Linked DNA regions of Homo sapiens. The protein of the gene in region 2 purifies or fractionates together with the protein of the main gene of each other region. This does not show direct contact. Each region holds a gene or a part of one and is shown on either strand. Other genes may lie near its edges.

Evidence for each region. Proteins that work in one complex are often made in the same cells at the same time.
Region 1: the proteins of ECEL1 (region 2) and ABHD12 purify together in Homo sapiens (co-immunoprecipitation; 2 studies listed by BioGRID and IntAct, with this or other methods). This does not show direct contact.
Region 3: the proteins of ECEL1 (region 2) and CLGN purify together in Homo sapiens (co-immunoprecipitation; 2 studies listed by BioGRID and IntAct, with this or other methods). This does not show direct contact.

The regions. Positions count from the first base shown.
Region 1 is NC_000020.11:25,387,823-25,395,093, forward strand, and holds the start of ABHD12 (lysophosphatidylserine lipase ABHD12), read right to left. Parts: upstream 3,014-7,271; 5' UTR 2,882-3,013; coding exon 2,691-2,881; intron 1-2,690.
Region 2 is NC_000002.12:232,484,835-232,491,897, forward strand, and holds the start of ECEL1 (endothelin-converting enzyme-like 1), read right to left. Parts: upstream 3,001-7,063; 5' UTR 2,885-3,000; intron 1,921-2,884; 5' UTR 1,820-1,920; coding exon 1,034-1,819; intron 434-1,033; coding exon 365-433; intron 258-364; coding exon 147-257; intron 60-146; coding exon 1-59. UniProt on the Homo sapiens protein: May contribute to the degradation of peptide hormones and be involved in the inactivation of neuronal peptides.
Region 3 is NC_000004.12:140,389,636-140,396,657, forward strand, and holds part of CLGN (calmegin precursor), read right to left. Parts: intron 6,571-7,022; coding exon 6,457-6,570; intron 6,335-6,456; coding exon 6,184-6,334; intron 4,407-6,183; coding exon 4,191-4,406; intron 3,077-4,190; coding exon 2,951-3,076; intron 2,744-2,950; coding exon 2,584-2,743; intron 1,094-2,583; coding exon 993-1,093; intron 1-992. UniProt on the Homo sapiens protein: Functions during spermatogenesis as a chaperone for a range of client proteins that are important for sperm adhesion onto the egg zona pellucida and for subsequent penetration of the zona pellucida.

The DNA.
Region 1 (7,271 bases), on a different chromosome or scaffold from region 2:
ACGAGGTCACGAGTTCGAGACCAGCCTGGCCAACATGGTGAAACCCCGTCTCTACTAAAACTACAAAAGTTAGCCAGGCACGGTGACGGGCGCCTGTAATCCCAGCTACTCAGGAGGCTGGGGCAGGAGAATTGCTTGAACCTGGGAGGTGGAGGTTGCAGTGAGCCGAGATTGCCACTGCACTCCAGCCTGGGCGACAAAGCGAGACTCCTTCTCAAAAAAAAAAAAAAAAAAAAATCCAATCCTTCATCCTACAAAAAAAAAGAGAAGAGGGATGGATGATTCAAAATTGGCTAAACACTGAAAACTTTTAAGTGATGGACACATGAAGAAGGCTCATTAGATTGTCTTCTCTACTTCCACGTATGTCGACAATAAAGAGTTTAAAAAATGTGCGGAAGGATCCAAAGAAGGATCATAAAAGACACAAACGAGCCGGCTCTGTGGCGCAATGGATATCTGTTCTATGGATATTTGTTCATTCAACAAGTATTTTCTGCTACCTACTACGTGCCAGGTACTGGAGATACTTAAGTGGAGAAAACAAAGCTCCTGTTCTCATGGCGCTTCCATTCTGGTTGCGGGGGAGGCACACGAGCAAAAATTACAATCTCGAGTGATAACAAGGTCGACAGGAGTGGGCTGGTCTAAGAAGGCCTCAGTGAGGAGGAGGTGATGGTGGCGCAGAGCCTGAGCGAGGAAGAGAAGAAAGCTCAAGGATGTCTGAGACAGCCAGCTGGGAAGGAAGACAACCTAACAAATTTGGTCTTCTTTCCCTTTGTTTTGCTTTTTACCCCTAACAGCCTTTTGCTTATCCAAAGGATATGGACACCACTGGAATGTCTCTCTTTGTCCTGACACGAAAATAAAAATTAATCGGGTAATTTTAATACAGTACATTCTTCAAGAAGGTGCCAGGTCGCCGCTGTTTCCCCAAACGTTGTGTAAAACAATTTGATTTTTTCTTTTTTTTTTTTTTTTTTGAGACGGAGTTCCGTTCTTGTTGTCCAGGCTGGAGTGCACTGGTGCGATCTCGGTTCGGCGAGATCTTGGCTCACCGCAACCTCCGCCTCCCAGATTCAAGCGATTCTCCCGCCTCAGCCTCCCGAGTAGCTGGGATTACAGGCATATGCGCCACCACGCCCGGCTAATTTTGTATTTTTAGTACAGACGGGGTTTCTCCATGTTGGTCAAGCTGGTCTCGAACTCCTGACCTCTGATAATCTGCCCGCCTCGGTCTCCCAGAGTGCTGGCATTACAGGCGTGAGCCACCGCGCCCGGCAATTTGATTTTTTCGAAGGAAGAATTTTCCAATTTATCTAAGCGTTATGCCATGTCTGTTAATAAAATTGTATTAAAGTTAAATCATGAGTTTTTAATGCAGATAAATCTTTCCATAGCAAAGAGAACAGATTAGTTTCACAAAAGATATTGATCAGATGCTACATAATTTTACACATAAAGACACAAAACTATCAGTCTCCGCCCTTCTGTCAAACCATCGACTTAGAAGTGTCTATAGTTTAATTTCATGATTTTTTTAAGCAATGAAGTTGAAATTCTACTTTTCCTTAGGAGCGATACGCATATTTTACACTCAAGTGGCCAGCGTCAACTAAGGGCATTCCAGATGGTCAAAAAAGAAGTGCCTCTGCTACAACGCCTGAGATCATCATATAGTAACTTCTTCAAACCACCACGAAGTAGCAAGGCTTCAAAGCTGTCAGGAATGCTACGTTCTACAACAGCCAGATAATTAGGAAACCAGCAGATGGGAGGAGAAATCTGTCCCTATGAAACACGTTCCCATCTCAGTTTTGAAAGTGGCTTTATATAAACGCATTCATCTTCTACCCAATAACCCAAAGGTTATTGAACGCCAATAACCAAACGACTCAGGACTGCGAGATGATTCCCAAGGAGGCGAACTTGTGCGGACAGATTTCAAGTACCACGAACCATCACCAGCAGAGCGAAGGGCAGGTTTCCCTCCGACGGCTGCGATGCTCCGAGTCCCTCCTTCCCCTAGCACCCCGCCGCCCACTGAGCCCTTCCCCAAAGGTCCCCGAGTTCTGAGCGACGCACGCCCCCGACCCTAGTTACCGGGGAGAGCCGCCGAGGGCCCAAGGCGCCAGTAAGGCTCCGCGCACGCAGCCCAGCCCGAGGGGCGCCCGCCCGGGCGCTCGGTGTGGGGCCTGATGCAGAGCAGGAGGAGGAGGTCCGAGTGGGCCCCAGCGCTCTCAGGGTCTGGCGCCGGCCCCTCTGCCTCCCGCCTCTGCTGTGCCTGGCGTCCAGGGATCTTCCAAGGACTCCCCACCCCCTACCCTGCTCTCCCACGCGGGGTCATGACTTCGGGCGGCGCCAAGCCCCCAGCGTAAGGGTCCCCCCGGCTTCCCCGGGAAAGGGTCGGGGTGCAAGGCTAGGCCAGGAGTGCCTGGCGAGAGGGCCGGAGCAGGACACAGGGGGTCAGCGGCAGGGCAGGGCGCTCCCGCCGCGGTGCCTGGGGAAGGGAGCGGGGGTGGGGCTGCCGCGGGCCAAATGCGGGACACAGGCGCGGACGGGGGCGGCCGCGGATCGGGCGGACGGCCACTCTGGGAGGGGCTGGGAGGTACCGCGGCCCCCTGCGGGACGCACCTGCGCAAAGTGAGGGACCGGCCCCCCCCCCCCCCCCGCTCCGCGCGAAGCCTCACCTGCCCAGCGCCCGCTTCATTCCCGCGTCGGCTGCGCAGCGCGGCTCAGCCGCCGCCGGGCCCGTCAGGCGTAGGTTCTGCTTCAGGCGGCAGTCGGCGTCCAGCGCCGCGGCGGCCGAGCCGGAGGAGGACGAGCCCGCGGCGGCGCAGCGCTCATGCTCCAAGGCGACGGGCTCGGTCCGCTTCCTCATCCCGCGGCCGACAGGGCCAGCCGCCGACGGCGCCCGCTGGCCTGCGCCGCAGTGCCGCCGCTCACAGCCGCCGCCACCCAGAGCCCGGAGCCCGGAACCCGCCGCTCCTCACATCCCAGCCCAGGCCGCTGCGCCGGCTACGAACCAGCGGCGGGGGCCCGCCAGCCAGGCCGGCCAATCAGCGCCGGGCTCCCGCCGGCTCTGCCCTACCCCCCTCCCCCGGCCCCGCCCCGGCCACCTCCTCTCTAGTTCCAAGGAGCGCGCGCCCAGCATCCCTGGCGCCACCCGCAGCCATTTTGTGGGAGGGTGGGCGAAGCTGCAGCGGCGCGTCATCTGCAGGGCAGGGCTCTGGGCTCCATCCGCAGGCTGCAGCTGTGCTCGCCCGGGCGCTCGGTGTGAGGAGCACCCGCTCCCGGTCGTGCCCGAAAGGGGTGGCCCAGCGAGGCAGAGCCGCAGCGCTGGGCTCCTCGTGCTTCTGTGAACGGAAAACCAGAGGTAGCAAATAGCAGTTCCGTTCTCGTGATTCTTAATTCTTTTTCCACAAGGACATTACCTTTAAAAGTATGCTTTCCGGTCGTCAGTTTTTAATTTGAAGTAAATGTATATACTCAGTGTTTACTTTTGGGCCGAACATCAGGAAATGAACTGCTTGAAAAATTTACTTTTTAAAAACCTGTGTTAGATTTTAGATTTTTATAAAGCAATTAAGACTACCTGATGGGAGGAAAATCCATTTCAAAGATAAATTCGCCCTTATGAAACCCAAATTTAGTACTAATTCAACCCATCCTAGAAAGAGAAAAGGAAAGAATAAAGGGCTGTTTCACAAATTTAGTTTTATAACTTTGGCTTTCTTCAATATGGCATTAGTTTTACAGATGATCTATAACAAAGAGAGATATTTGCTTATTCCAAAGTAACGTTAGAAATTTCAGCATTTGTCACTTTGAAAACTATTGGCAATTGATAAAGGTCAATTGGAAATGCGTTTAGAAATTCAACAGCTTTTTATATTAGTTTTTTCTTTTTTTTTTTTTTTTTTTTTGAGACGGAGTCTCGCTCTCGCCCAGGCTGGAGTGCAGTGGCGCGATCTCGGCTCACTGCAAACTCCGCCTCCCAGGTTCACGCCAGTCTCCTGCCTCAGCCTCCCAAGTAGCTGGGACTACAGGCGCCGGCTACCATGCCCGGCTAATTTTTTTGTATTTTTAGTAGAGACAGGGTTTCACTGTGTAGCCAGGATGGTCTCGATCTCTCGATCCCGTGATCCGCCCGCCTCGGCCTCCCAAAGTGCTGGGATTACAGGCATGAGCCACCGCGCCCGGCTGCTTTTTAAATTAGTTTTGTAATGATACTTTGAAATTGCAAAATAATTTATTGACCATATTACTAAGTGTTACAGCCTGCATTCATAATTGTGTCAATATCTCCAGATATACTTTTTAAAAACATTATGGGCCGAGCTCAGTGGCTCATGCCTGTAATCTCAGCACTTTGGGAGGCGGAGGTGGGTGGATCATTTAAGCACAGGAGATGGAGGCCAGATCAGCCTGGCCAGCATGGTGAAACTCCGTCTCTACTAAAAATACAAAAATTAGCCGGGTGTGGTGGCACAAGCCTGGGTGACAGAGCAAGACTCTGTTTAAAAAAAAAAAAAAAAAAAAGGCTGGGCGAGGTGTCTCACGCCTGTGAGCCCAGCACTTTGGGAGGCCGAGGCGGGCGGATCACGAGGTCAGGAGATTGAGGCTATCCTGGCCAATGTAGTGAAACCCCGTCTCTACTAAAAACACAAAAATTAGCCAGGTATGGTGGCACAACCCTATAATCCCAGCTAATTGGGAGGCTGAGGCAGGAGAATCGCTTGAACTTGGGAGGCGGAGGTTGCAGTGAGCTGAGATCACACCATTGCACCCCAGTCTTGGGGACAAAAGCAAACTTCTGTCTCAAAAAAAAAAAAAAAAATTAGCTGGGCATGGTGGCGCGTGCCTGTATTCCCAGCTACTTGGGAAGCTGAGGCAGGAGAATCGCTTGAACCAGGGAGTCGGAGGTTGTGGTGAGCCGAAATTGTGCCACTGCACTCCAGCCTGGCGACAGAGGGAGACTCCTCTCAAAAACAAACAAACAAAAAAATTAGCTGGGTGTGGTGGCGCACGCCTGTAATCCCATCTACTTGGGAGGCTGAGGCAGGAGAATTGCTTGAACCCGGGATGCTGGGATTCGGAGGTTGCAGTGAGCCGAGATTGCACCACTGCACTCTAGCCTGGGTGACAGAGCAGGACTCCATCTCAAAATAAACAAACAAACATACTATGGAATGTAAATTATAAATTCTTTATAGTGATGTAGTAACACATCCTGGAGAGATTGGAAATCTAGGAAATAACTAAAACGTAAAAAAAAAAAAAGAGGTTTTGACTCTATCGCTCACTTCAATTAAAAAAACAACAACAACAAAAAAAAAACAGCCAGGCGCGGTGGCTCATGCCTGTAATCCCAGCACATTGGGAGGCCGAGGCGGGCGGATCACAAGGTCAGGAGATCATGACCATCCTGGCTAACACGGTTTCACACCCCGTCTCTCTAATAACAATATAAAAAATTAGCCGGGCATGGTGGCGGGCGCCTGTAGTCCCAGCTACTTGGGAGGCTGAAGCAGGAGAATGGCGTGAACCCGGGAGGCGGAGCTTGCAGTGAGCGGAGATCGCACCACTGCACTCCATCCTGGGCGACAGAGTGAGACTCCGACTCAAAAAAACCAAACAAACAAACCAAAAAAAAAAAAAAAAAAAAACAAGGAAGGAAGAGCTGGAGAGGAAAAATCTGTACCGTGTATTGAATCTTTCTTACAGGCACGAGGCCCTGCCCACACAGTGCTCAACTCTTGGTGGTTGAGCCCATGCTAGTGATGCCCACATTTTTATCATTGGTCCACACCTCTCCTTGACCCTTAGGCTCCTCATCATTTCTGCTCTGATTTCTGACAAGCACCACTTCAATGCTGAGCTCCCAACTCTTCTCCCACCCCCAACTCCATCCATGACCTTCTCTGGTAATTCTATTGCAGTTCCTGGGGCCACAATTCTGGGGTCATCCTTGACTTCTCCTTTCTTGTGCTATAGCATGTCTATCACCAAGCCTTGTCAGCTGTGCTTTCAAAATCTATGAGAATTTAACCATTAAATTTTACCGCCTCCATGGTCCCCACCCTGGGCCAAACTGCTGTTATCTCTCACCTCCATTATTTGAATAGCCTAACTGGTCTCCTGCCTCCACTTTGCCTCACTTCTGTCCACTTAATTCAGCTGCCACATAGGGTTTTCTTGTTGTTACAAGGTCTAATTCTGTCATTTATTTGCTCACAACACCTAAGTGGCTCCCCATCTCACTCAAAACCCAAGGCTTACAAAAGGGTTTAACATGGCCCTCCCTGACTGTAGAGCACCCGATTCTGTCGTTGATCAGGGGTGCCACTTGCAACCTGCATGGACTTAGGGTAACAACAAAGGGTGGTGAACGTGAGAATAAAAGACAAGAGACAAGAGTATGTTTGGAAGAAGGGGTCAGGGGGCACCTTGCCTCTAGTGGACAAGGGCCCTGAGCTTTACACAGCCCTCCATATTTATTAGGCAAAACAGATAGGGATAAATGGGGGGTGATTGTGGGGTAATTGTCAGTCGGCTGGTTGGTTCACAGCAGGCTTGCCAGACTGCATCGTTTGAACAATAGACACTAGATTTCTCAGTAGATAACTTCAAGGAGCCCCGTGCCAGGGAGTGAGGCCCTCAGCCAACCTTTTGGTGGCAGGCGCAGTGTGAGTTTGCTCACATCCTGCATTCGTGATAGTGATAAACAGTTTGCTATTTGATCATATAGCCTCCAGTGGAATGCTGAGTTGATCATGATCCCTTTGGCCTTTTTGGCTCCCAACATCTCTCCCTTTGTGTTTATGTATTAATTGAAAGAATGTAAGGCCAGGCTGGGCATCTCTCATTCTCTGATTGGCAGTCCGTCCGATTTTACAGACTATGAGCAGAAGACAGAGACAAAACAACATTATTCCAAGAACTACATATAAATTGTTAATGTGGTGCTTTAGATAGGTCCAAGGGTTGAGGCTTGCCAGGCGTTGCTGGAATTTGGTCCAGTCTTCTAAAGCAGGTTGAAATTTTTGAGTTTGCTTATTTAAAACAAGAATTTTGTTTTGTAATTCACCAATATCAAAGGTGATGTTGGATGTGAACGCTCCCTGTAAATGGGCTTTCACAAGGTCCCATGGATAGTCACTTTGGTTATATTCTTAGTTGTTTACACAAATATGAGTGTGGTTAAAATGACAATGCAACTGATGCTGCAACTGCAAGCTCTGTACTTTTTCTCCTAACCAAAGGACCGT
Region 2 (7,063 bases):
ACCTTGTTGTACATGGAGCTGACATCTCGCCGTAGGTCGTCATGCTCTGACACAGTGATCTGTGGGGAGAGATCACAGCTGACCCAGCCCTGCTCCATGATGCCCTCCCTCAAGCCCAGGGCAGCCTCCAGTCCTGGTCTGCTCACGTTGGCCAGCTGCTGCTCCACTTGCAGGATCTCTTGGGCCTTCTGTTCCACAGCGTCTGCACCCAGGAGGCTGAGCACTCGCTCCATGAACACCCTGTATGCTGCCAGGATCTGCACCAGGGGAGGGGGCTCACCCAGGGACAGGGACAGGCCTAGCCTGGATCCACCCCTCCTGGGGCCCCAGGCCTTCCCTGCCTCCCCATCCCATGCCCCAGCACCTTCTCACTGTCCTCATCCTGAGCGAGGTACAGGGTCCTCTCTGGCAGGGTGAGCCCATCCTGGTCAATCTGGGGAGGGAGACAGGGGCCACAGGTCAGAGGCCCACACCTCAGGTTCCCTAAACAGAGGGAATTCCCACTCCAATGCCCAGAGAGCAACCAGACATCCATGAGTACAGCCACAGAAGCACGCAGACCCCAGCTCCTCTTTCCACCCAGACGAGATGGCCAAAGCCCCATCCCTGACTGTCCCAGCCTGCGGATGCCCAATCTTACCCCTGTACGTCTGCACTTTCCTTATCTGTCCGGGGCATTCGTAGGTCCCCCACTGACAGTTGGGACCCCTAGCTTTGGGGCCAGCTCCAGACCTCGCGGAGACGTCAACCCAGCCCGCCGGCGCGCCTCTCCCTCCTGGCCCTCACTGCCTGCCAGAGGGCTGGGAAATTGCGGCTCCCGCGGCTCCTCTAAACACCGCAATTACCCCAGGGAAATTACTTGCGCCCTCCTCCCGCGCTCTGCCTCTGTGCGCTCCCCTCCCCTCCCCTCTCCTGCTCGTCTCTTCCCTCCTCTCCTCTCACGCACCCGCCTCCCGCGCGCAGGGACCCCTGGGCAAGGCCACTGCGCCCCGGATCCGCGGCCGCTGGCAGGGCGCTCAGGGGGCGCACTCACGCGGATGACGTAGCGCGAGGAGTTCCTGTCGTCCAGGCTGACCGTGAGCGAGAAGAGCGCGGCGGCGCTGTACACGCCCTGCGCCTTGTACAGCAGCCGGTTGAGGTCCCATCGCGCCGCGACCCCCGGACGCTCCTCCGCGCCGCCCAGGTCCCAGCCCCCGCAGTCCTCGATGACCTCTAGCATGGGTCGCGGGCCCAGTCGCTCGATCTCGCGCATGTCGAGGCACGAGCGGAAGAAGGCGCGCACCTTGCGCTGGGCCGCGCCGCCAGGCCCACCCCCGGGCCGCGCCAGCAGGCGCCGTAGGCGCTCCTCGTTTTGCTCGCCGATGGCCGCGATGGTGCCATAGGTGAGCTTGTCGTCGGGGATGGCGTGGCGCCGCAGCCAACCGCCGCAGGCGAACGAGTAGAAGTCCTGGCATGGGTCGATGCTGGCGTCCAGGTTGGCGGCCAGGAAGCGAGCGGCGCGCGCGAAGGCCTTGCGCTCAGGGCAGCCCTCGGGACAGGCGCCGCCGCCGGCCGCGACCGGGCCCAGGTACTTGAGGGCCAGCATAGCCGCCAGAATGGCGCAGAGGCCGGCGGCGAACACCAGCCCCGACAGCAGGCACACCTCGCGCCGGTTCCAGCGCGGCAGCCCGGACCGGGCCCCGGTGGCGCTGCGCGCAGCGCCCAACGGGAAGCCCGGGGGCAGGGAGGCCCCGCGCGCGCCCCCCGCGCCGCAGCGGCTCACGTACTTGACCTCTTGGAACTCATCGTAGTGCGCCGTCAGCGAATACGGGGGCTCCATGGCGCCGAGGCCGCCGCGGTGCAGACCTGGGCCACCTGGGCTACGGGATGCGCGTGGCCGCCGGCCTCCTCGTGGGCCTCCGCATGGCCCTGGGGCCGCAGCTGCGGGAAGGGCGGAAGCAGGCTCAGGAGGCGCCGCAGCCGGATGGGGCTCAGGGTCACCGCGAGGAGGGACACAGGCCTGGGTGCAGAGGCCCCAGCCGCGGGCCTCATTCACTGCGGAAACCAGGGACTATGAGGGTTCGGCGGGGCCACCACCCCCGGGTGCACAGTGGAGTCTTCCCCCCTGTCCCCTCCCTGCACACACTTGAGGGCCGCAGGGTTGGGAGGGCTCTTATTGGAAGCAAGAGGCGCCAGGCAAGGGGCCTGGCACGTAGTGGGCCTTCATTGAAAGGTCGTCCCTCTTCCCCTTCGCCTTTCTCTTCCACGACCTGCCCCAGCCAAGGCCGGGTGGAGTGGGGGAAGAAGCGGAGGCTGGAGTGAGGAGGTGCGGTCAGGGGCGCGTCTATGCGACACTTTCAGCTCTCCGCGCTGGACCCAGACAGACGCTCCGCAAAGCGGCCAAAGAACCAAACTTTGTCCTCGCGGAAGTCCGCGGGATCGACCACGCCAACCCCGCTCCCTGGCTCCTTCTGCTCGGTGGCCCGACGGCCCACTCGCCCCTTCCCTAGGGGCGCGCGCCAACGCCCCAGGGTGGCGGACACACAACCCACCCACTGGACGGCCCTGATGGAGAACCCGAGACGGGTTCCCTCCCCCCACTCCCACCATCTCTGTCCCCGCCCCGAGCCACTCCTGGCTTCAACAGGTTCTCCCCAGAACCCAAACTTGGGCGAAGTTTCACCCCCGGCGGGGAGCGAGCTGGCTGGCGACCCCCGAGCCCCGGCGCCGTGCGGCGCAGTCCGCGGAGCCCGAGAGCCGAGCCCGGGAGCCGCAGCCGCAGCCGCAGCCGGAGCCGCAGCCGAGAGGACGCAGACAAAGCCGGGAGGCTCCGCGCAGTGGCGGCGGCGGCGACGGAAGTGGCCGCGGTGGTGGCCTCAGCGGCAGGGACTCGGGCGCCACTTACCCGGCAGGTGCGCGCCCGAGCCGGCGGTGACCGAGCGGGTCGGGCCCGAGCGGGGGCCTGAGCCGCAGCGCAGCCGAGCGGGCGTCCGGTGTCTCCCAGCGCCCGCCGCCTCCTCTGCCGCCGCGCCGAGCCCGCCGCGCCGCCCGCCTGCCGGCCCGAGGGAGGGGGCGCGCCGGCGGCTCCACCCTCCTCCGCCCGCCCCGCGCGCCCCTCCTTCCTCCTGCATCTCTCGGGCCACCTGGCAGTGGGGCGGCAGCGCGGACGTGGGTCGGCGGCCGCGGAGACAGGCTCCCGGGGGTCGTGCGCGGGCTGCGGTCGGGGACTCCGGGTCCAGCCGCGTTCCGAGACGAGTGAGGGCAGCGAGTACTCCCGTGAAGGGTCCCCTCCGATCCAGTGTCCCCACTCCCAGCCGCCCACCAGCCGGCTGGAAAGGGGCTGGAGCTGGAGATGAGGAGCCGAGGACTCCTCCGAAGGGCTGGGGGCGGTGTCAGTAGTGCCTGTGTCTGCCGGCACAGTCCCTGGCGCAGAGCGCACCTTCACTAACCGGCTTTTTTGTCCTCCTTGGAACCCCTGCCCTGGATGGGCTCTCCACTAGGGCTTCTGGTTGGCCTCGCTCCCTTCACCTAGCCCCTGGTGAAGGGAGCTCAGCGGGGACTCCTGCAAGAAGAGGGCTTGCCGCCCCCTTCCCCATCCTCCCCAGCCTTGGGTGGCCCTGGCACCACGGCTCAGGGAGTCCCTGGCCCAGGTAGGAAGAAAAGGCCAAGAGAAGAATGAGCGAAGTCTCCCTGCTGGAGCCAGGGAAGGCTGGAGCCTGCCCCCTCTGGCCAGCAGCCCTAGGCCTCAGACAGGCCCTGAGCCTCAAGACCCTGGTATGTGGACTGATGGGAGGGCAGGCTGGGTGCAGGGACTCTGAATTTACTCACCGCCTGCCTTCTTCCAGGTAAACTGGCTTTTTAAATGTGGGGCCTCCCCACTGCCTGGAGGCAAAGCCCTCTTCTACCTGCCTGCCTGCCTTGGCCAGACAGCCTGGCCCTAATGGGACACAGAGAACTTGGGGCTCCTTGGAAGACTGATACTGTTTCTGGAGTCTCTGCTTTCTCTGCCCTACCCTGCCTCTGGTGTCTCTAGCAGGAGACCCCACAAAGCACCAGCCCTCCCAGGTCTGCCGGCTCCAGCCCGTAGGATTGGCTTAAACAATGTGTGAGAGCCATGGAGCACCATCTAATAAAAATCACAACAAGGTAGGGACTCTGATAACCTACCCATCATCCTGTTCTCCTCCTCAGGGTCTGTGCATCTGCCCAGCTCCTGAGCCCTGGCCCTGAGTGCCGGCCTCTGCCCCTGTCTTGCCTCTCCCTGCCTCTTCATCTCTCCATCTCTAAGCCCCCACTCCGGATACCCTGCCTCCATCTCTGGCCACCCCAGGGTTGTCCTCTGCCCCATGCATCCTTCTTGGGTCCTATTAATTCTAAAGAGGAAAAATGGAATTACTTATAATGTGGCGATTCCATGAAGGGGGGAGGGGAGGGCAGGGAGGTGGCAAAGTGGCTCTTTGTGCTTTTAATCTGCATTTTTCCCTCAATGTTCCCGTCTCCAGGAGGATAATTTTCCAGCCTTTTCAGGCCCTGATTGGTATCATTTCTCCAGCAAGGACAGCTTTTATTTTCCCCGAAATGAATGCCATGAAATTTCCAAGAAATGTAAAAATGGATATTGTCTCAGAGAGCCTCTTCCGACAGAAAGGCACAGAGGCAAACACGCTTCCCTAGGGACTCTTCTGCTCCAGTCCCGGGGGTGGGGTGGGGGGCAGCCCCCAGGCCCTCAGTCTCTCCTCCCTCCTTTTGCCCTCCCTCATCCCTTCCTCCTCCCTCCCGGGTCAGCTCTGGGACCCCCCTTCCAGCCACCCTCTCCCAGACTCAGCTGCTATTGGTCTGCTCATGGGCCTCCCGACTCCCTGCCGGGCGACCTGCCTGGCTCCACCTCACCTTTTCTTTTCACATCGCATCCCCCAGCCCCGGGCTGAGAGCAGCAACCAGGGCCTACAGGAGTTGACTTGGAATTGGGCCCTCTGACCCCTCAGTCCTGGCCACCCCACACAGACTGCCAATAAAGAGAAGTCAGAGGCCCACCTCCTTGACTCTCCGGCACCTTCTCTGTAAGGGAAGCTGGCACTGTAGGGGAGTAGGCACCAGTGGTCTGGCCTGTAGCTTGCTCACTCTTTTGGGGGATCTCTTCCTACCCCTAATTACCAAGATGACCCCATGACTCATGAGAAAGAGAATGACAGGCCACAGTGGTGCCCAGCTAAACCCAGCCAAGCCCTGAGTGAGGCAGCTGGGTGCCCAGCTTCAGGGAGCAGTTGGGTGCTGCCAGAGCTGCCTTGGAGAGAAAAGGCCCGAGGGGATGCAAGGGGGCAGAGATGAGGGGTTCAGAACCTGACTCTCTGTCTCCTCCTTGACCAAGGGTAGATCCCAGCAACTCTGCCGAACAGGGCATCACTTGGTTTGGGTTCTGGACATAGAGCCCTCCCTGAGGACAGTGTGCTGTCACCAGTAGCTTGCATCTGTTGCACGTTCACCATGTGGGCTGCTAAGTGCCCTGCTCTGAGGTGGGGCTGCCCACCTAACGCCGGGCCTGGTCCTGACTGGAGCCCATTTGTGGTCGGACCCGCCTCTCTCCTGCGGCCTGCACGTGGGTGGGGATGAACCCCTTGCCCTGCCTCGGTGTGCTGCAGCAGGGTGTCAGCTCCAGGACGAGCCCCGCCAGCCTCCACCCTGTCCAACCAGGCCCTACTCCTCCCCTGCAGATCTGTGGTATCTTCTGAGCCCTAAAAACACGCCTCCAGCCAGCTTCCTGTCCTCCACCCGGCCTCTCGGGGCTCATCCCATCTATTATTCACAGCACAAAATGGATTTTTAATTTGAGAAATGAAATGACTCTCCCAAGTGGCCGGGGTGGCAGGGAGGGGGTGGAGGAAGGCCGGAGCCGCCGTGGCCGCCACAGCCGCCACGGTGCTGACTCAGGTTCATCTTGGAAAGCTCGGGGCCCACAGCCGAACTGAGAGACCCCAAAGGCCCAGTACCCCACCACTCTGCCCCAGGCCTCCACTCCTCCCCATTGCTGTGACCAGGTGGGGTGACGGGTGCCCGTTGGTCCTGCCTGAGCCTCCAGTGGGGCCTACCTCTGGCAGGGCGGTCGGGGGGACAGCTGGATCTGTCCTCCACTGGCTTTCAGATTCCTGTGCCTCAAGGGCAGCCCTTGGGCTCCCTGGCCTGGCCTATCACCTCCCCACACCCCCCGGCCCTCCTGGCCTGGCTTCCTCCACCCTGTCCAGACCTCTGGCTGAGCTCCTTTGCTAGGTCCTGACCCCACACTAGGCCCACTCCGGCCTCGACTGCTGGCACTGGCCTCCGCTGCTGGACACCTGGCCTCCACTCCGGCCTCCACGGCAGAACCCCTCCTCACCCCTCACGGGGGAGCTCAGGCATCTTAGTGTGGCCCACAAGGCAGGGCCTCCTCCTGGCTCTTCTCTGTCTTTGTCCCTCTCTGCCTCCCCACCCCCATACCTCCCTCTTTCCTCTGGTTACTCTGATCTATTTCCATTTCCCAGAACATGGCTGGCTCTGTCATCCCTCAGGCCTTAGCACTTGCTGTTTCAGCTGCCTGGAACACCCTTCCCCCGTCCCCTCTTACGGTGGCCAATTGCCAACCATCCTTCAGGGCCACCTGGAAGTGGCCTCTCCCATCTGGTCAGGTGCTGCCTCCACAGGCCCCTACTCCACCGGATGCAAAGTCTCTCCTATGGCAGCCCCTGTTCTTCCCCTCCAGGTAGCCCGCGGCCCCTTCTGGAGCCCAGGACAGGGGACGCATATGATAAACTCAGGTGACGTCCGTGATCAGTTCATGGAGATGCCCTGCCTGAAGCATCTCTCAGCGCCAAGCCATACACCAGGCACAGCACCCAGGCAAACCTGCCCAGGCTCTCAGATCCTGAACACCTTTCCTTTGCTCTGGAACCCACCAGATGACAAAGTGGGGGCCACTTTTCCACCCTCCTGCACCCCTCCTCTCCACTCTGAACCCCGTGGTAGGCTTTGTCCTCGCCATGCATAGACTCCTCTTGGGGTCACCTCCCAACCTCTGGAGCAATGTTGTTTTTGTACAAGAAACATGTAAATA
Region 3 (7,022 bases), on a different chromosome or scaffold from region 2:
GCAGAAACAATGATTATTTAAAACTTGGCTCTGGAAGAAATTCTCTTCACCTAGCTCTCCCTAAATATGGATATTCATACTAAATAATGGTCCCAAAGTCCCTATAAAAACTCAGAGGGCAGGAAGACCAGCAAACAGTATGTGTACTGATTAAACATTAGGAAAGACTTAACAATAATTGCAAATTTATTTGGAGGATTTCTTTAAATAGATAAAATACAAAATTCATTTCATCACATGCAAGAGCAGGCAGAACTGTACTTTTATCCTACCTACATAGTTGGAATGTAATATGTTAGGATGGTGACTCTGTGGGGTAAGGCTACCCAGCTCTTTAAGGGCCAGAGAAAACTGGTTTTTGGTTTATGCTGGATTAAAAACAAAAAAGAAAAAAGACAGCTCTGGCTCTAATTATACTCGGGATTTCTCATTCCATAATAACTTACAAAAAAAAAGCATTGTGCAAAGTTCCATTTTATATCAGGACACAAAAAGGGGTAGACTAATAAGGGGGGAGAAAAGTTCACTAAAGATTTGAGAAAAATACCCTATCAGGCAGATAGTACTCAACTACCCAATGAATGAAATATTTTAAAACGTGAGAGTAAAATGTTGAGACAATAAAGATGTTTTACAACAGCTATAAAAATTATAATAATGATAATTATCTTTTAAATATTCAAACAATGTGTTTATTATGCTTTTCAATAGAATTTCAATGAGAAAGTCATAATTTTGGATACATGTATTCTATCTTTATATTTTGTACGCCACAGGCTTGCTCTATACTGTTTTACTAGGCATTGAGACAATATAAATTACAGTATTTTTCTTTCCTTCCTTATGGATATGTTTTAAAAACAATATAGAGGCTCTTATAAAAGCTGAGAGAAATATGGCAAAAATTCTTTCATAAATCATATTGGTGCTTTTATTGAAAAAACTTTTTATGGATAACAACTATACATAGAAACCAGCTTATTTTCTGTTACCTCATCCTCTGACCCAGACTTATTTGATTGATTACTTTCTTCTTGCCCTTCTATGATTTCAATTTCTTCTTCACTCTTTTCCTCAGGTTCACTTTCCTCTTCTAGAATACAGATTTTGTTAAAAGCAAAGACTCAATAAATTAGAATTTTGCTACTGAAAAGTATTAAATACAATAAATGGGATTTATTTAAATTCCAAGATTTATTCCAAGATTTAGAAGCAACTTCTTCCATTCAAAATTTTAAAAATTATAAATACTCATTATATTATCATATTTTATAAATGAATCATATTTGAGTTTGGGGACAAGTTTAAAAAATTCTTAAGCATTCAGTCTGTATGTAATATGAAAACCAAAAAATAATAATCTTTCCTGTGTTCCTGTCTTGGAAAATACTTCCTTTAATTTTTGGTGATCTTTTAATCTTCAATATGTTATTTACTTATGTTTGTTCTCTGTGGACATCATGCATTTTTTCAGTTATTGACCCTCCTTAGGATTCCATTTAGCAGAACCTCCAACTTTTGTCATCATTATTAACCAAAAGATATTAAGCACGTCCTAGGAGCTATATAAAGTAAAAACTCCTACCCTACCAAGAATGGGCTTTGGGGAAAGGGAAGTTGAAAAATCAACTCTACTTCTTCTACGTAGTTCCAATGTGGGACTACGTGTATAGATGAAAGTGGTGAAAGTACCTTTATACAAGCAGGCCCCTCCGATACTTAAATTCCCTCTAAATAAGGCTGATCCAGACATCAATATACTAAGCACTAAGAAGTTACAAAAACAAGGCTGGAAACTTACAACCTGAAACATTTGTTGTTTTAGATACCTATCCTAATACACACATGAACATGTGTATGTATATGTGTGTATATATATATATACTGTCTCTTAAAAAATAGATAGACACATATGTGTTTTTAAGTCAACTGTTTCATTAAGTGAGTTAAACACTGTGCTTCAAGACATTTGGCTTGGGACACTGGGCAAATCAATAGTTTTATTTCTACCTTATGTAAGGAGGTCTCAGCGGACAGCCACCAAAGGGTGACTTCAGTTCTAACATCTTCAAGAGTTTAACATAGGGTGAGAAGGGGATATAGGTTCAGCAATCCTTTCAGAAAATTAATTAAATTATTTCTTCTATATGATAAGCATCTGACTAACAATAGCTGTTGGAAGACTTGGTGTTGATTTTGTTGCTGCAATCATCTGTTTTATATCTATTCCTTTTCTACAGAGGCCATGATATACACCCTCTATCACCCTCCATCTCATCTTCTACACTCCCAGAGCCAAGAAACATCCTTGCAAAAAGCTATGGCCTATGGGATTCATTAACTGCTAGGCTCTCAAGCAACTGAACACTATTTAAATCTCCTTCTTCCTAGAATGCAAAAACTATAAACAGGGTGGCTGCTCAGAGGACTATTATTCCTTCTTGCCACAGTCACATATTCTTGGGAGATTCAGATGTATAAACTTGATAATAAACAAGTATAATAACTAGTTATTTCAAGGCCATATACAGTTTTATGAGCTTTACCCAGAGTCTCCATTATAAATCACTCTCATCATCTTACCTTTTTCAAGCATTTCACCATCATTTTGCTTTTTTTCCTCTTCCAGGTCCATTGGTTTTTCCAGGGCTGCTTTCTCTTCCTTTTCTTCTTGCTCTAGTACTCCTTTTGTTTGTGGTATACATATGTCGGTTTTTTTATACTCTGTATCTTTATGTTTTTTCTGTGGTAGTTAACATAAGTTATTTTTACTAAAGGCAGAGTGCTATTTTGAAAGTTTTTTTGCAATAATTGATAACATACATAATGAACTATCAGTAAAACTTATGAGACATTTAGTTTATTACTTTTAAGAATCGCTTAATTTATAGAACTCTTAAACAACAAGAAATTTGGGTGAAAAAAGTTGAAGGAAATCCATTTTCTTTACCTTTACTTTTCTTGGCCAACAAAATGAAGTAATTAATGCTATTGGCACTCCTGCTGTCACAAGATAAATCAACCAAAGCCATGGGTGCCCTTCAGCAGCTGCCATTAACTGTTTTAATACACCAGGCTATAGACGAGATAAGCATAAAAATGCAATTCAAATTTTACAAACCTTTACTGGGTAACACAAGATACAAAAAAACTTATTTACTCAGGCATTTTACATTAAGGAGTGATGAACTCGTAAGTAAAAGAAGTTTCATTTTCCCACCTTATACTTTGTAAAGTCTAATTTAATTATTAGCATGCATCACTGAGTGAGACTTGATAGCAGAAGGTATGTTATGACAAAAGTGGAAACTTCTAACATACTGGCAAGAAAAATGGTAATTTTCCTTTTTGGTAAATTTCAGAATAGAACTACCTTTTATGGATGTATTACCTGGTTTATTTGAAGTGATCATTCATTCTGTACTCTGATCATTCATTCTGTACTTTTAAAGAACTTACTAAAAATCATACCTCAGAATTGTTTTCTTTTTTATATAAACACATTTCACACATAAGACCCTCAGTAAGGATATTATTTCTCTTATTAAAATAAAATTTAAAAAATCAAATGTTTTAGTTACAAGAGGTTCAAAACAAGAATCCCTCTTCACCTACTCTTTTGATGGTTTTTCGCTAGTGACCCAAGGAACCAAATGTAAGGTAAGAATTTTTCTTTATAGCAACTGAATTTAATGATACATTTTCTAAGATGCATTGTGTTGAAATATTTAGCCCAACCTTTTCTAAACAGTGTTAAGGTTTCGGGAAAAAACTGGAACAGAATTTAATAATGTTAAACTATAAATTCTTTGTACATTCCTCTAAGTAAAAAATAGTTAAATAAACAGTAATATTTAGATTATCATTGTCACTTAGGTCTTGAACTGGCAAGATGACAAAGATATTAAGTAGTCTTCTTCTATGAACAGTAAATAAGCATTAAATCCCATTAGTGATGTTATAATTTAATGAATAAAATGAGGACTTACATATGCATATATAGCTCATAATGAAGTAACATAAAAAGCAAAATATTCTGTCTACATAAACTTATTCAAACACATTTCCTTGGCATTTAGTAGTTACTGCACATTTATTTGCATTTAAAAGAGCCATCTGAATAACCTACAACCAAGACCAAGTATTATTATTCATAGTTATATCACTACTGCTATTGGTCAACACCATACCTTATTAGCATTTGCTATCATTATTTTCCATCTCCAACCATCTGCAGCCCAGTGATCTGCTACTTCCTTTTCCGAACAGATAATAAAATTATCAAAGTAGATATCAGAGGTCATAGACCAAAGCTCTAAACCAAGAGCACTGAAAGAAGTCAGAAGAAATGGATGATCATCTTCGAAATAATCTGGATTAGGAATTTTTCGAGGACTCCAGATTCCCTGGAAGAAAAGTAATTGAAGACATTTTCAAATAAAATAACTTCATTATAAATGCTGCTTAATAAGTAGCTGCTGTTGAATGAAATTCGCAATGCTAACTGGAAAAAAGAGAATTTTAACTGATATTAATTCATTAGTAATATACTGGATATAAAATCTTGTTTCTTTTGCTGTGTACACAATGTTCCCTACGAGTGATACTAACTTTAAATTCTGCAAGAAAAGGAAAAGGGAAAATCCAACATAAACAGAAACGTGAATAAATTTCACAATTTGTCTACTTTGGACAAATTTTTAGATTTAGTAAAGTTATTCATTGCAAAATGTTATTCAAGTTGTCCAAATCAGAAAGATCATTGTATAGCAAAAATGGAGTTACTCCATTTAACATATACCCATGACAGATATCATTAATCAGGTATGGTTGAATCTCGGCACAACTACTCAACCTAAAACTTCCATTAGATCTTAAATGATTAAACTGTCCATTAAATCAAATACATTCAACAATATCATTGCTCACTGACTCACTCCACCATCACATGTATGTATTCTGGGCCAGGCACTATGCCAGATGATGGAGACATACATGGTTCCTGTATTATGGAGTTTAAAGTCAAATAAAAGAGACAGACATCAAACAAAAAAATTTACCAAAAGAAACATTTTGTGTTAAATGCTTTTAATAAAAACTACAGTGAGTAATTAGAATATGAAACTGCATATATATAATGTTAGAACGTATCCATAAATAATTACAAAGATAAAACTAGAGGGTTAAGTGGATAACATAGAAACTTTTAATATAAAAAGCTAGGTACACTCAAAAGATGTCGATTGATATCAGAAAAAAATCAGGGCTGGGTTCGGTGGCTTACTTCTGTAACCTGAGCACTTTGGGAGGCCAAGGTGGGCGGATCACGGTCAGGAGTTCGAGACCAGCCTGACCAACATGTGAAACCCCGTCTCCGCTAAAAATACAAAAGTTAGCCGGGCGTGCTGGGGTGTGCCTGTAATCTCAGCTACGTAGGAGGGTGAATCAGGAGAATCGCCTGAGCCCAGGAGGCAGAGGCTGCAGTGAGCCAAGATCACGCCAGGCCAGGTTTTTTGTTTTTTTGTTTTTTTGTTTTGAGTCTTGCTGTGTCGCCAGGCGGGAGTGCAGTGGCACGATCTCAGCTCACTGCGATCTCCACCTCCAGGGTCCAAGAGATTCCCCTGCCTCAGCCTCCTGAGTAGCTGGGACTACAGGCGTGCGCCACCACATCTGGCTAATTTTTTGTATTTTTAGTGGAGACAGGGTTTCACCATGTTGACCAGGGTGGTCTCCATCTCCTGACCTCGTGATCCGCCCGCCTTGGACTCCCAAAGTGCTGGGATTACAGGCATGAGCCACCGTACCTGGCCAAAAATCAGAATTTTAATAATACTAAATAATAAGTACATTAATTAAGCACAGGCATTAATTACTAAAATGTACAATATGAGTCTATTTGATCAAAATTCACTTCTTATATTTACTTCTAAAATAGAACTTTATTTCAAAGTGAGCATCAACTGATAATTAGGGAAGAATATAGTATGAAGTGATTTATTTCCCCAGAAAATTAAATAATTGATGCTCTACTTTTAAAATATAAATTAGTTGAGGTCTATTTTCTTTGACATCTTAAAATTAAAAATGAAACTTCCAAAAGTTGACATAGGTAATTAGATATTTAAATAGAAAAGATCACAACATTTTTAACTTCACTAAATAATTGGAACAAGCGGTTGTTACCTGATAGTTAGGATTATCGACCAGTGGAGGTCTCCATACTCCTTTGTATTTTGGGTTATCTATCATGGGAGGTTTCCACTCACCACACCCAATCCGACATGCTGGATTAAGAATCTGAGGTGCCTCCCATTCTCCATCCGTGTCTTCATTCCTTAGGATATTAAAACAAAGCAAATACAGTAACCTCAAGTCTCAGATCAGTCATATAAACTAGTAACAAAAATGCATGTAAGAAACATTTGAAATCGACATTTGAAGATGAAGAGTGCTTACCAGTCATCAGGTTTTTCAGCATTAGGATCAGGGATAAATTTTGGTTCATCATCAAGCCAGCCAGCAGGTTTAACAACACTTGAATCTTCTATTTGGGCAGGTTCACTTTCATCCCTGTAAATACAACGTTTTATATTACTAATTATTCAGAAAGTTTAAAAATGCATGTTACAACACTAAGAAGGTACCATAAAATTATTTCCCTCCCTTTTGTTTGTGCCTGTTATTTGTCCTCATCTACTACCCACCTAAATCTTTTGCTAACTTGCCAATTTTTGGTACATATTCCCTGTTGTGCTCTATGCATACATGCACACACGTATACATTCTTTTTTTTAATACGAATGATAGCATTCTATACATAATGTATTAGACCTTGCTTTTGTTACTTAAAAACTCAGTCATTCATCAACAAATATATATTGCATGCTTACTATGTGTCAAGACTGTTCGAGGAGCTCCATTATTATTATTTTTTTCTTGAGGTGGAGTCTTGTTCTTGTTTCCCAGGCTGGAGTGCAATAGTGCGACCTCAGCTCACTGCAACCTCTGCCTTCCGGGTTCAA